2 separate regions of the Homo sapiens genome follow, and region 1 is linked to region 2. The links come from fine-mapping of genetic effects on gene expression. A gene starts in region 2. The other region holds a variant in brackets. All regions are shown on one strand. Distances are from middle to middle. Region 1 overlaps ENTPD1 (ectonucleoside triphosphate diphosphohydrolase 1). Region 2 holds the start of TCTN3 (tectonic family member 3).

The links. PIP is the estimated chance that this variant, and not a neighbour inherited with it, causes the effect. A credible set is the group of variants that fine-mapping cannot tell apart.
Region 1: its variant is the best candidate, but not a certain one, in a credible set for the expression of TCTN3 in whole blood (INTERVAL, PIP 0.65).

What each region holds. Positions count from the first base shown.
Region 1 is chr10:95,825,071-95,830,453 of GRCh38, reverse strand. The region is part of intron 2 of ENTPD1 (ectonucleoside triphosphate diphosphohydrolase 1); the gene reads right to left. The region is part of intron 4 of ENTPD1-AS1 (ENTPD1 antisense RNA 1); the gene reads left to right. Among named protein-coding and RNA genes, the nearest start is that of ENTPD1, 72 kb to the right of the region's middle. The variant A/G (reference allele first, on the strand shown) is at 2,217.
Region 2 is chr10:95,690,963-95,696,345 of GRCh38, reverse strand. TCTN3 (tectonic family member 3) reads left to right here and starts at 2,419. Exons shown (of 14, transcript NM_015631.6): 1 at 2,419-2,702; 2 at 2,870-2,993; 3 at 3,308-3,426. The coding sequence starts at 2,447. It also overlaps a transcript of ENTPD1 not described here. RefSeq lists enhancers at 1,459-1,960, 2,435-2,714.

The DNA.
Region 1 (5,383 bases), 130 kb before region 2:
GCCCAGCCATATTTTTGAAAAGCTCCTCAGGTGCTTCTAACATGGATCCAAGCTTGAACACCACTGCAGTTTAATGGATGAGATGCCCACTTTTAAGCCAAAAATACTAAGCTCAGACTTGGACCTCCTCTTCCACCTCTCCTTCCTGCCCCCATATTCAACAATCTAACCATACTGAGCTGCTGATTCCCCAGGGATTGCATATGATTTCAAGCTGTCACTCTTCAACACATGATATAATCTTTGTCTGGAACATGTCCTATCCCACTTTCTAGAAAACTCCTTACCATTTGTCTTAGTCCATTCTCTGTTGCTATCACTGAATACTTGATACTGGGTAATTTATTTAAAAAATAAATGTATTTCTTACAGTTCTAGAAGCTATGAAGTCCAAGGTCAAGAGGCAACATCTCAGGAGGGCCTTCTTGCTGGTGGGGACTCTCTGCAGAGTCCCGAGGTGGCACAGGGCATCACATGGCAAAGGGGGCATACTGAGAGCCAAACTAGCTTTTAATACAGACCTACTCTAATAATAACTAACCCACCCTGTGATAACTCAATCCATTTATCCATGAATGGATTAATCCATTCATGAGGTCAGAGCCCTCATGACCCACCACCTCTTAAAGGCCCTGCCTCTTAATACTATTATACTGGGGATTAAGTTTCAACATGAGTTTTGGAGGGATCAAACATTCAAGCCATAGCACTTAAGACTCAGCTCCAAGGCTACCTTCTCTGTGAAGCCTCCATGTAAACAGGCACAATTAGCAGCTTCTTTCTCTGGGCTTCCATAGCACTGTCTCTGCATGAATATATCTCTATTATATTGAAATTATTTGTACGAAGAACCCTCACCTCCACAAAAATCAGGAGGTGCAATGATACTTCAGATACCTCTTGTGACCATTTTACATCTTGGCCAACTTTTTACTCCAGCCCCAGCAGTATCTCCTTATCTCTCTATTTCTGCCCAGCAGCTTCTCTCCTGCTGCCTAAGTTGTCACCTGTGGTACCCACATGACCCCTCTGACACACGTGCAAACCTGGAAGTGACAGGGACTTAACACCAGATGGGAGCAACCCTTGACCAACAGATAATGAGAACCAGGGGATAAATCCCCAGGGCAGACAATTCTAAAGTTCACTCTCCACAGCTCTTGAGAGGGTCCCTGGGAGGATCAAGCCTCAGTGGCCCAATGTGGTAATTTGCTCCTAACTCTCTCTTTCCCTTCTTCCTTGTTTCCTTGGAATCACTTCCCAAAATAAACATCCTGCATGCAATTTCTGTTAATAGGATGTGCTGTTTGGAAAAACTCACTAAGACAAATGGAAAGAACATTAGTCTTTGGATCAGAAAACTGGATTCTAGTTTTAGCTCCCCCTCTGCCTTGGGTGAGAGAACATCTAAGGCTTTGATTTTGTTATCTATAAAATGGGCATGGCCAGGTGCGATGGCTCATGCCTGTAATCCCAGCACTTTGGGAGGCCGAGGCGGGCAGATCAACTGAGGTCGGGAGTTCAAGACCAGCCTGACCAACATGGAGAAACCCCGTCTCTAGTAAAAATACAAAAATTAGCCGGGTGTGGTGGCGTGTGCCTATAATCCTAGCTACTCAGCAGGCTGAGGCAGGAGAATTGCTTGAACCTGGGAGGCAGAGATTGCGGTGAGCCGAGATCATGCCACTGCGCTCCAGCCTGGGCAACAAGAGCAAAACTCCGTCTCAAAAAAAAAAAAAAAAAATGGGGATAACCTTCTATTCTTCACAGTATTCACGGGAAGAAAAAATGGAAATGCATGTGGAAATGATTTATAACTGCAAAGCACTAAATAATGTTATCATTATGCCTTAGGAGGAATTCTTTCCCTATTCACCCTTTAAATCAGTGGTCTCCAACCTTTTTGACACCAGGGACCAGTTTCTTGGAGGACAATTTTTCCACAGACCCAGAGGTGGTGAGGAGGGGGAAATGGTTTTGGGATGATTCAAGTGCATTACACTTATTGTGAACTACCTTATTTCTATTTTTATTACATTGTAATACATAATGAAATAATTACACAACTCACCATAATGTAGAATCAATAGGAGGCCTGAGCTTGTTTTCCTGCAACTAGACAGTCCCATACGGGGGTAACGGGAGACAGTGACAGATCATCCGGCATTAGATTCTCACAAGGAGCACGCAATCCCGATCCTACATATGTGCAGTTC[A/G]CAATAGGGTTCGCGGTCCTATAAGAATCTAATGCTGCCACTGATCTGACAGGAGATGGAGCTCAGGCAGTAATGTGGGCGATGGGGAGCAACTGTAAATACAGATGAAGCTTTGCTCGCTCGCGTGTTCCTCACCTCCTGCTGTACTGGTCCATGGCCTGGGGGTTGGGGACCCCTGCTTTAAATGATAGAGCTTCTCAGGACTTGGACCTTGACTCTCTTCTCATTTTATAACCCCATCCTAGATGACCTCATCCATTTCTAAGGCTTCAGTCAATCAATGCCATCAGAGACATAGCTTTAATCTAGGCCTGTGCTATTTAACCAGGGTAACAAATAGCTGGCAATTGAGCACTTGAAATGTGACTAGTTGGAATTGAGATATGCCATAAGTTAAAATTTGAAGATAGTATGAAAAAAGAATGTAACATATCTCATTAACAATTTTTTTTTGGCCGGGCATGGTGGTGGCTCATGCCTGTAATCCCAACACTTTGGGAGGCCAAGGTGGGCAGATCATGAGGTCAAGAGATGGAGACCATCCTGGCCAACAAGGTGAAACCCCGTCTCTACTAAATACAAAAATTAGCTGGGCATGGTGGCACGTGCCTGTAGTCCCAGCTACTCAGGAGGCTGAGGCAGGAGAATTGCTTGAACCCGAGAGGCAGAGGTTGTAGTGAGCTGAGATCGCACCACTGCACTCCAGCCTGTGCTACAGAGCGAAACTCCGTCTCAAAAAACAAACAAAACAAAACAAAACAAAAACGAAATTTTTTTTTTTTTGAGACAGAGTCTTGCTCTGTCACCCAGGCTAGAGTGTAGTGGCGTGATCTTGGCTCACTGCAACCTTCACCTCCCAGGTTCAAGGGATTCTCCTGCCTCAGCCTCCCAAGTAGTTGGGACTATAGGTGCCTACCACCACGCCCGGCTAATTTTTTTTGTATTTTTAGTAGAGACGGGATTTCACTATGTTGGCCAGGCTGGTCTTGAACTCCTGACCTCGTGATCCACCCACCTCAGCCTCCCAAAGTGCTGGGATTACAAGTGTGAGCCACCGCGCCCAGCCAACAATTATTTATTTTGATGAAATGTTGAGGTAATATTTTGGATGCATTGGGCCACATAAATTATATTATTAAAATTAATTTCACCTCTTTTCTTCTACTTTCTAAAATGTAGCTCTTTGAAAATTTAAAATTTGGCTTGTTTTATATTTTTATTGAGCACAGCAGTAGATATCTGCTTAGAAAAGAAAGGTCCAAATCTGATTATCCAACTGCTTTCTTGACATTTCCCATTGGCTTTCCAACACTCAAAACAATTCTTCAAAAATTGAACCCAAAGGCTCCCCCTCCTTCCACATTTTTCTTGTAGCCTCTTCCTGGTATCCTCCTATATCTCATCCTCCTCTAATTCATTGAAATCAGAGTGATCTTTGCAAAAACAAATCTGATCATACCACTAGCTTCCCACTACTCTTAGGATTAAAACTGAAATCCTCAACCTGTCTTGCAGGGCCTGCACCACGTACCTCCCCATCTTTATATAACACGTGGCCCACTCCTGCTCTCCAACTAGTTCCTAGGAGATATCCAACTCCTTCTTGTTTCAGGACTCTTGCACCTGCTTTCCTTCTGCCTGGAATTTTTTTTTTTTTTTTTTTTTTGAGTTGGCGTCTCACTCTGTAGCCCAAGCTAGAGTGCAGTGGCAGATCTTGGCTCACTGCAACCTCCGCCTCTGGGGCCCAAGTGATTCTCGCACCTCAGCTTCCTGAGTAGCTAGGATTACAAGTACGCGCCACCATACCAAGCTAATTTTTTGTATTTTAGTAGAGATTGGGTTTCACCATGTTGCCCAGGGTGGTCTCAAGCTCCTGAGCTCAGGCAATCTGCCCACCTCGGCCTCCCAAACTGCTTCGATTACAGGCATGAGCCACCGTGCTCGGCCCTGCCTGGACTACCCTTTACCTATGTCTTTCCCAGCTAACTTCCAATCATTCTTCAGATATTATTTTAGTATCATTTTTTCAGGGAAGACTTGCCTGGCCCCAAAACTTTCATTTGGTGGCAATTTATCATAATTACAATTAATAATTTGTGTTATTAAATATGTTTGCTTCCCCAGATGGTAAGCTCAGTCATATCTATATACTGCCTTCCCTATTGTGTAGCCCAGTGCCTAACACAGACAATGAATATTTTTTATTTTACTTTTTTTGAGACAGAGTCTTACTCTGTCAGCCAGACTGGAGTGTAATAAATAATTGTCGATGCATAAATTTATAAAAAATGAATGAAGAACTGCTGAATGAAGTATGGTCATAAAGTCATGTCATTGTGTGCTCTCAAAACACATGTATCAGCCGGGCACGGTGGCTCACGCCTGTAATCCCAGCATTTTGGGAGGCTGAGGCAGGCAGATCACAAGGTCAGGAGATCAAGACCATCCTGGCTAACATGGTGAAACCCCGTCTCTACTAAAAATACAAAAAAATTAGCCGGGCGTGATGGCGGGCACCTGTAGTCCCAGCTACTTGGGAGGCTGAGGCAGGAGAACGACGTGAACCCAGGAGGTGGAGCTTTCAGTGAGCCGAGATCGTGCCACTGCACTCCAGCCTGGGCGACAGAGCGAGACTCCATCTTGAAAAAGAAACAAACAAAAACCCCAAACAAAGAAACAAAAAACAAACAAACAAACAAAAAACATGTATCAGTACAAATATCCAAATAAGTGTTATCTTTTAAATGGTCATTTTTGGAAGCAAATACATTTATTTCAATAAACTACTCAAACCAGTTTAGTAGCCCATGATATTTGGGATGATCCTGGTACTAGTTTACAAACCATGCAAGAAAAAAAGTTTTTTTGTTTCTTATTCTAGATTTTATAAAATGTTTTATCATACACCCTATTCATTAAACTTAGTTTTGAATGACTTCAGAGTTATCATTCAAGAGTATGCTTTAAAGTGGCAATGTCCAATAGAACTTTCTACAGCAAGGCAATATTCTATATCTGTGTTGTCCAATACAGTAGCCACCAGCCATGTATGGCTATTGAGCACTTGAAATGTGGCTAGTGCAACAGAGGGACAGAATTTTTAATTTTATTTAATTTTAATTGACAAGCTTAAAGAGCTGCATGTGGCTAGTGGCTATCAAATTGGA
Region 2 (5,383 bases):
TGGCGCCACTGCACTCCAGCCTGGGTGACAGGGCAAGACTCTCTCAAATAAGTTAATTAATTAATTAATTAAATCAATAAATAAAACAAGTTTAAAAAACAGCAATACAAATAATCTTTTTGCTTAACTATAACAAAAGAGAAAAAAATAACTTTTCTAAAAAAAAGTTGTGTTAAAATTCAAAAATAAGAAAAAGCAACTCAAAAAGATCCGGAAACATTACTTCCTTATCACTCATCTCTAAAATTACTTCAACCAACAGTCTTTTGCCAACGCTAATAAATTCAGAAATAATTTAACACTATTTGAGAGTTGCCATTTAAATTCCAAACTTTGAAATCTAAAATAGTCTCTGATCAGATGTACAATGGAAATTTTATAGAAAGATCATTACATGGTAAATTGGTTGCAAAAAGAAGAAATTTTATAGAAAGAAATACAATCCTGAAATAAAATAAACTAAAAATATTCCTAAGGATTAATTCTAAAGAGTTCAACAAAACAATTTTTAATATATTTTTAAAATATTTAATGCACATCTAACATGTCCCAGACACTGTTCTAGGCATGGGGATATTTCAATGAACAAAACAGACAAAACTCACTATTTTTGGAATTTACATTCTAGTATATACATATGATCATATAATCTGAATAATATGAACTTGGCCTTTTCCTATAGAAATTACTAATAAGGTAAATAAATGTTTTAAGACCAAACACATATCTCCCATAGCTGTCTATCACACAACAACATAAAAACATATTTGAAAATATTTATAACACAGAGAGACTTTTAGCTACTGACTTCAAAACATTAGAAAATAAAGATCTTGTAAGAGAATTCAAGTAAAGTCAAATGTCCTAAAACTTACCTGAGTTAAATGATTCACTTGTAAAGGGAGGTGTTGACCAGATTTTAGGTAAGTGTACTAGATTTTAGATAACTCTTAACAGATGTTAATTTATATACTAAAACTAAATATCCAAAATAATCCAGATGTCAGAACCGTGGACATAGGAAAATACTGGGTCTAGGAGGAGCAATATTTTGATCATCTACAGTCCCACTGTACAATATGGTAGCTACTCACGTCTGTGGTTAACTTTGAATTAATTACAATTTAAAAATTAAAAATTCAGGCCAGGCACAGCGACTCACAGCTGTAATCCCAGCACTTTAGGAGGCCAAGGCGGGAGGGTCACTTGAGGTCAGGAATTCGAGACCAGCCTGGACAACATGGTGAAACCCCATCTCTACTAAAAATAAAAATAAAATTAGCCGGGCGTGGTGGCGCGTGCCTGTCATCCCAGCTACTCAGGAGGCTGAAACAGAAGAATCACCTGAATCCTAGAGGCAGAGGTTGCAGTGAGCTGAGATCACACCACTGCACTCCAGCCTGAGCGACAGAGCGAAACACCGTCTCAAAAAAAAAAAAAAAAAAAAAAATCAGCTCCTCAGTCACGCTAGCCACATTTCAAGCGCACAATTGCCACATAAGGCCGGTGACTACCATGCTGGACAGTGCAGCTACGGTACATTTCCAATACCGAAGGAAAGTCCCATGGCCCGCGCTGCTGTGGGGAATCGGAAGAGGCACGCCATTCCCGGGAAGAACAAAAACCTCCTAGAGAGGCTTAAAAAATTTGCCATTAACACGGGGAAAAAAATCTTCTATTTCCATTCCTCCATCTTATTTTCTCACCTCCTAGACAATGTTTCTTTTTTTTATTCTTTCTCTCCCTATTTTCTCACATTTTTCCTGCCCTTTTTTCTTATTTTTCTCTCACTGCTTTTTCTAACAACAAACATGCAGTCCATCTTTAATGATTTGATGCATTTCTTTAGGGTTTTCAAAATTTCTCAATGTTAAAATGTAAGGAGCTGAATGAACATTATTTCTAATGTGTTTTTTTTTTTTTTAAAAAAGCCATATTTAGAGGAGACTGTTTTTTAAGGTATGTGACCTTAGGTGTGTTTCCCCCACCTGAGAACATTATTCTTCCATAGAAAGGGTTTCTCACCGTTGGAATCCGGGGTGAAAAAAAATTTGCAATTCTAGTTCCGGCCTCTGGGGTTTCCTTGCACCGGAGGCCGGGCTCAGTCCTCTGGGCCGCGAAGTGGGCGCGGAACCTCTCGGTCCGCCGAACTCCTACCGCCACCTAGCGGAAGGAAGGCGCAAGGGCTTCTTCGTCACTGACGGTTGCCAGGCAACGGAGGCACGGCCCGGCCCGCGTTAAGGAGGAGGGCGCAGACCGAAGGACACTGAAAGAGCTGTAACAACCCCACTTTCGATTGGTTGAAGAGCTCTCAGCCTTCTCATGAGCCAATGAGAAGAGGCACGCGGATGGCGTCAGACGCTATGCGACTCCTCCCACCCACGCTCTGGCAATGCGATTGGAGACCGCGGAGGCCTACGTCGGACCCGGAGGCCCTGAATGCCCCATGCGCACCCCACAGCTCGCGCTCCTGCAAGTGTTCTTTCTGGTGTTCCCCGATGGCGTCCGGCCTCAGCCCTCTTCCTCCCCATCAGGGGCAGTGCCCACGTCTTTGGAGCTGCAGCGAGGGACGGATGGCGGAACCCTCCAGTCCCCTTCAGAGGCGACTGCAACTCGCCCGGCCGTGCCTGGACTCCCTACAGTGGTCCCTACTCTCGTGACTCCCTCGGCCCCTGGGAATAGGACTGTGGACCTCTTCCCAGGTGAGGGAAAACGTTGTGGGGGTGGAAACTTACTTCTGAGATCTAAAATTCTGTGAGCAAAGTTGAGCTGCCACAAAGCAGGAGTGGGGCTGTCGGAAGAAGGAGGGTGAGCACCTGGGAGAGTTTGGGGATCTTCATCCCACTCACTCTGTGTCGTACTTTCATAGTCTTACCGATCTGTGTCTGTGACTTGACTCCTGGAGCCTGCGATATAAATTGCTGCTGCGACAGGGACTGCTATCTTCTCCATCCGAGGACAGTTTTCTCCTTCTGCCTTCCAGGCAGCGTAAGGTGAGCTTCGTTGCTCAGACTGAATCCTAAAGGGGTTTGGGGCCTACAACGGGTAACATTTGGATGTAAGAAGAGTTAGTCTTTGTGCCTCCCACCCGTACTTCCACTCCTAGGACATTCCCTTGGTTTTTCCTAGGAATTGCCTTTTCTGATTCTCTAGAGCAGGGCTGGCCAGTAGAATAAGACCTTCGTGTCGTCCTATAGGTGCCCAAGGAGTCCTCTTTGGCATCATCTGGCCGATATTGCTGGGACACTCTTTTTTGGACCTGCCCCGCCCCTTCTAAATATATCTTCTCCCTCCTCTTTCCTCACAGGTCTTCAAGCTGGGTTTGTGTAGACAACTCTGTTATCTTCAGGAGTAATTCCCCGTTTCCTTCAAGAGTTTTCATGGATTCTAATGGAATCAGGCAGTTTTGTGTCCATGTGAACAACTGTGAGTAGAAACATGTTGGTTGTTCTCATTTTCTAACACAGGAGTGTTATATTTTGTCTTCCCTGGCCCACATTGGAAGAAGAATTGTCTTGGGCCACACGTAAAATACACTAACGATAGCTGATGAGTTAAAAACAACAACAAAAAAAAAGCAAAAAAAATGTCAAATGTTTTAAGAAAGTTTACAAATTTGTGTTGTTGGGCTGCATTCATAAGCCGTCCTGGGCTGCATGCGGCCGGTGGGTTGCAGGTTGGACAAGCTTGGTCTAACATTTATTGAGAATTGGCTTTTATTCTGGCCTTTTTTCCATTTCTTTTTTTTAAACTTTTTTTTTTTTTGTCCTTTGAATCTCTACGCCTCTTTCTGCCTCTTCTCTCTTATTACGGAATACATTTGCATTTTTGTTTTTTTTTGAGACGGAGCCTCCACCTATCGCCAGGAGTGCAGTGCAGTGGCACGATCTCAGCTCACTGCAACCTCCACCTCCCGGATTAAAGTGATTCTCCTGCCTTAGCTTCCCGAGTAGCTGGGACTATGGGTGTGTGCCACCATGACCAGCTAATTTTTGTATTTTTAGTAGAGACGGGGTTTTGCAATGTTGGCCAGGATGGTCTTGATCTCTTGACCTCATGGGCCACCCACCTCGACCCCCAAAGTGCTGGGATTACAGGTGTGAGCCACCGCGCCTGGCCACATTTGCAACTTTTTATGTTCTGTTGGCTATGGATCAGAAAACTCATAAAGAACTTTAATTTCAATCATTTTAATCATTCCTCTTAACTCAGATAATCACAGATAGACTATATTCCCCACTTACTACAATCTCCATGAGGGTACTAACTGAATCCCCAGTGCCTAACACATAGTAAGCACCAAATAATGTTTGAATGAACATCTTTGACAAATGAGTCTATGCCAACCTTATTTTCATTTCATGAGGCAACAGTGTAGGAGGAGCATTAGATTAGGATCTCAGTCCTGCCATTTCCTTACCAGCTATACAGACTTGGGCAAATCCCTTAGCATTTCCAGGCTCGTTTCTTCAACTGTAAAGTGAGAAATAATATCATTGGCTTTGTATATGAAAGCGCTCTACAACTGTAGAGTACAATAAAGATTAGAGGTTATTATTATTGGGGATGGTTAGTGGACTTAGAAATTTGCTGGTGATGGCTATAACATTTCTAAAGATATGAAGCTAATCTATCTTTTTAAAATGTCTATGAAGCAAAATAATGTTCCTGCACAAAATGGATTTAAATGTCTCTTGCATCCTGGAAGTCACCTCATCCTGATTTCATCTGACTGTTAATAAGAATTGCAAAACTATATTTGTCTCAGAAAACAACCAGTTTTTGGTTTTGGGGGACTTGAATTTCAAAGCAGTTATCAGAAGCCTTGTGGTTATTTAGATGGTAATAGGGTAAAGGGAACAAGATGAATACTTCATTTTCAGATAAGGTTGTGGCCTGACGCGGTGGCTCACTCCTGTAATCTTAGCACTTGGGAGGCTGAGGTGGGCAGATCACTTGAGGTCAGGAGTTTGAGACCAGCCTAACCAACATGGTGAAACCCTGTCTCTACTAAAAAAACAAAAAATTATCCAGGCATGGTAGTGGGCACCTGTAATCTCAGCTAGTTGGGAGGCTGAGGCAGGAGAATCATGTGAGCCTGGGAGGCTGAGATTGCACCACTGCACTCCAACCTGGGTAACAGAACGAGAGTCTGTCTCAAAAAAAGAAAGTTGTCTCTTCTTTTCCAAACATTTTACTGCCTTTTAAATCCAGCCTTATGATCATGCTCCAGGGTTATTGCAATGGCACCTACCTGGTGCTCCCTGCTTTTGATCCCCACTCCTGCCCCCGACACCATCCTGCACACTCCTTCGGGATCAGTGGATCTGAACTTTCTTTAAACACCTGAGGGAGGAATATGGCCACTTCCAATAGTAGTTAT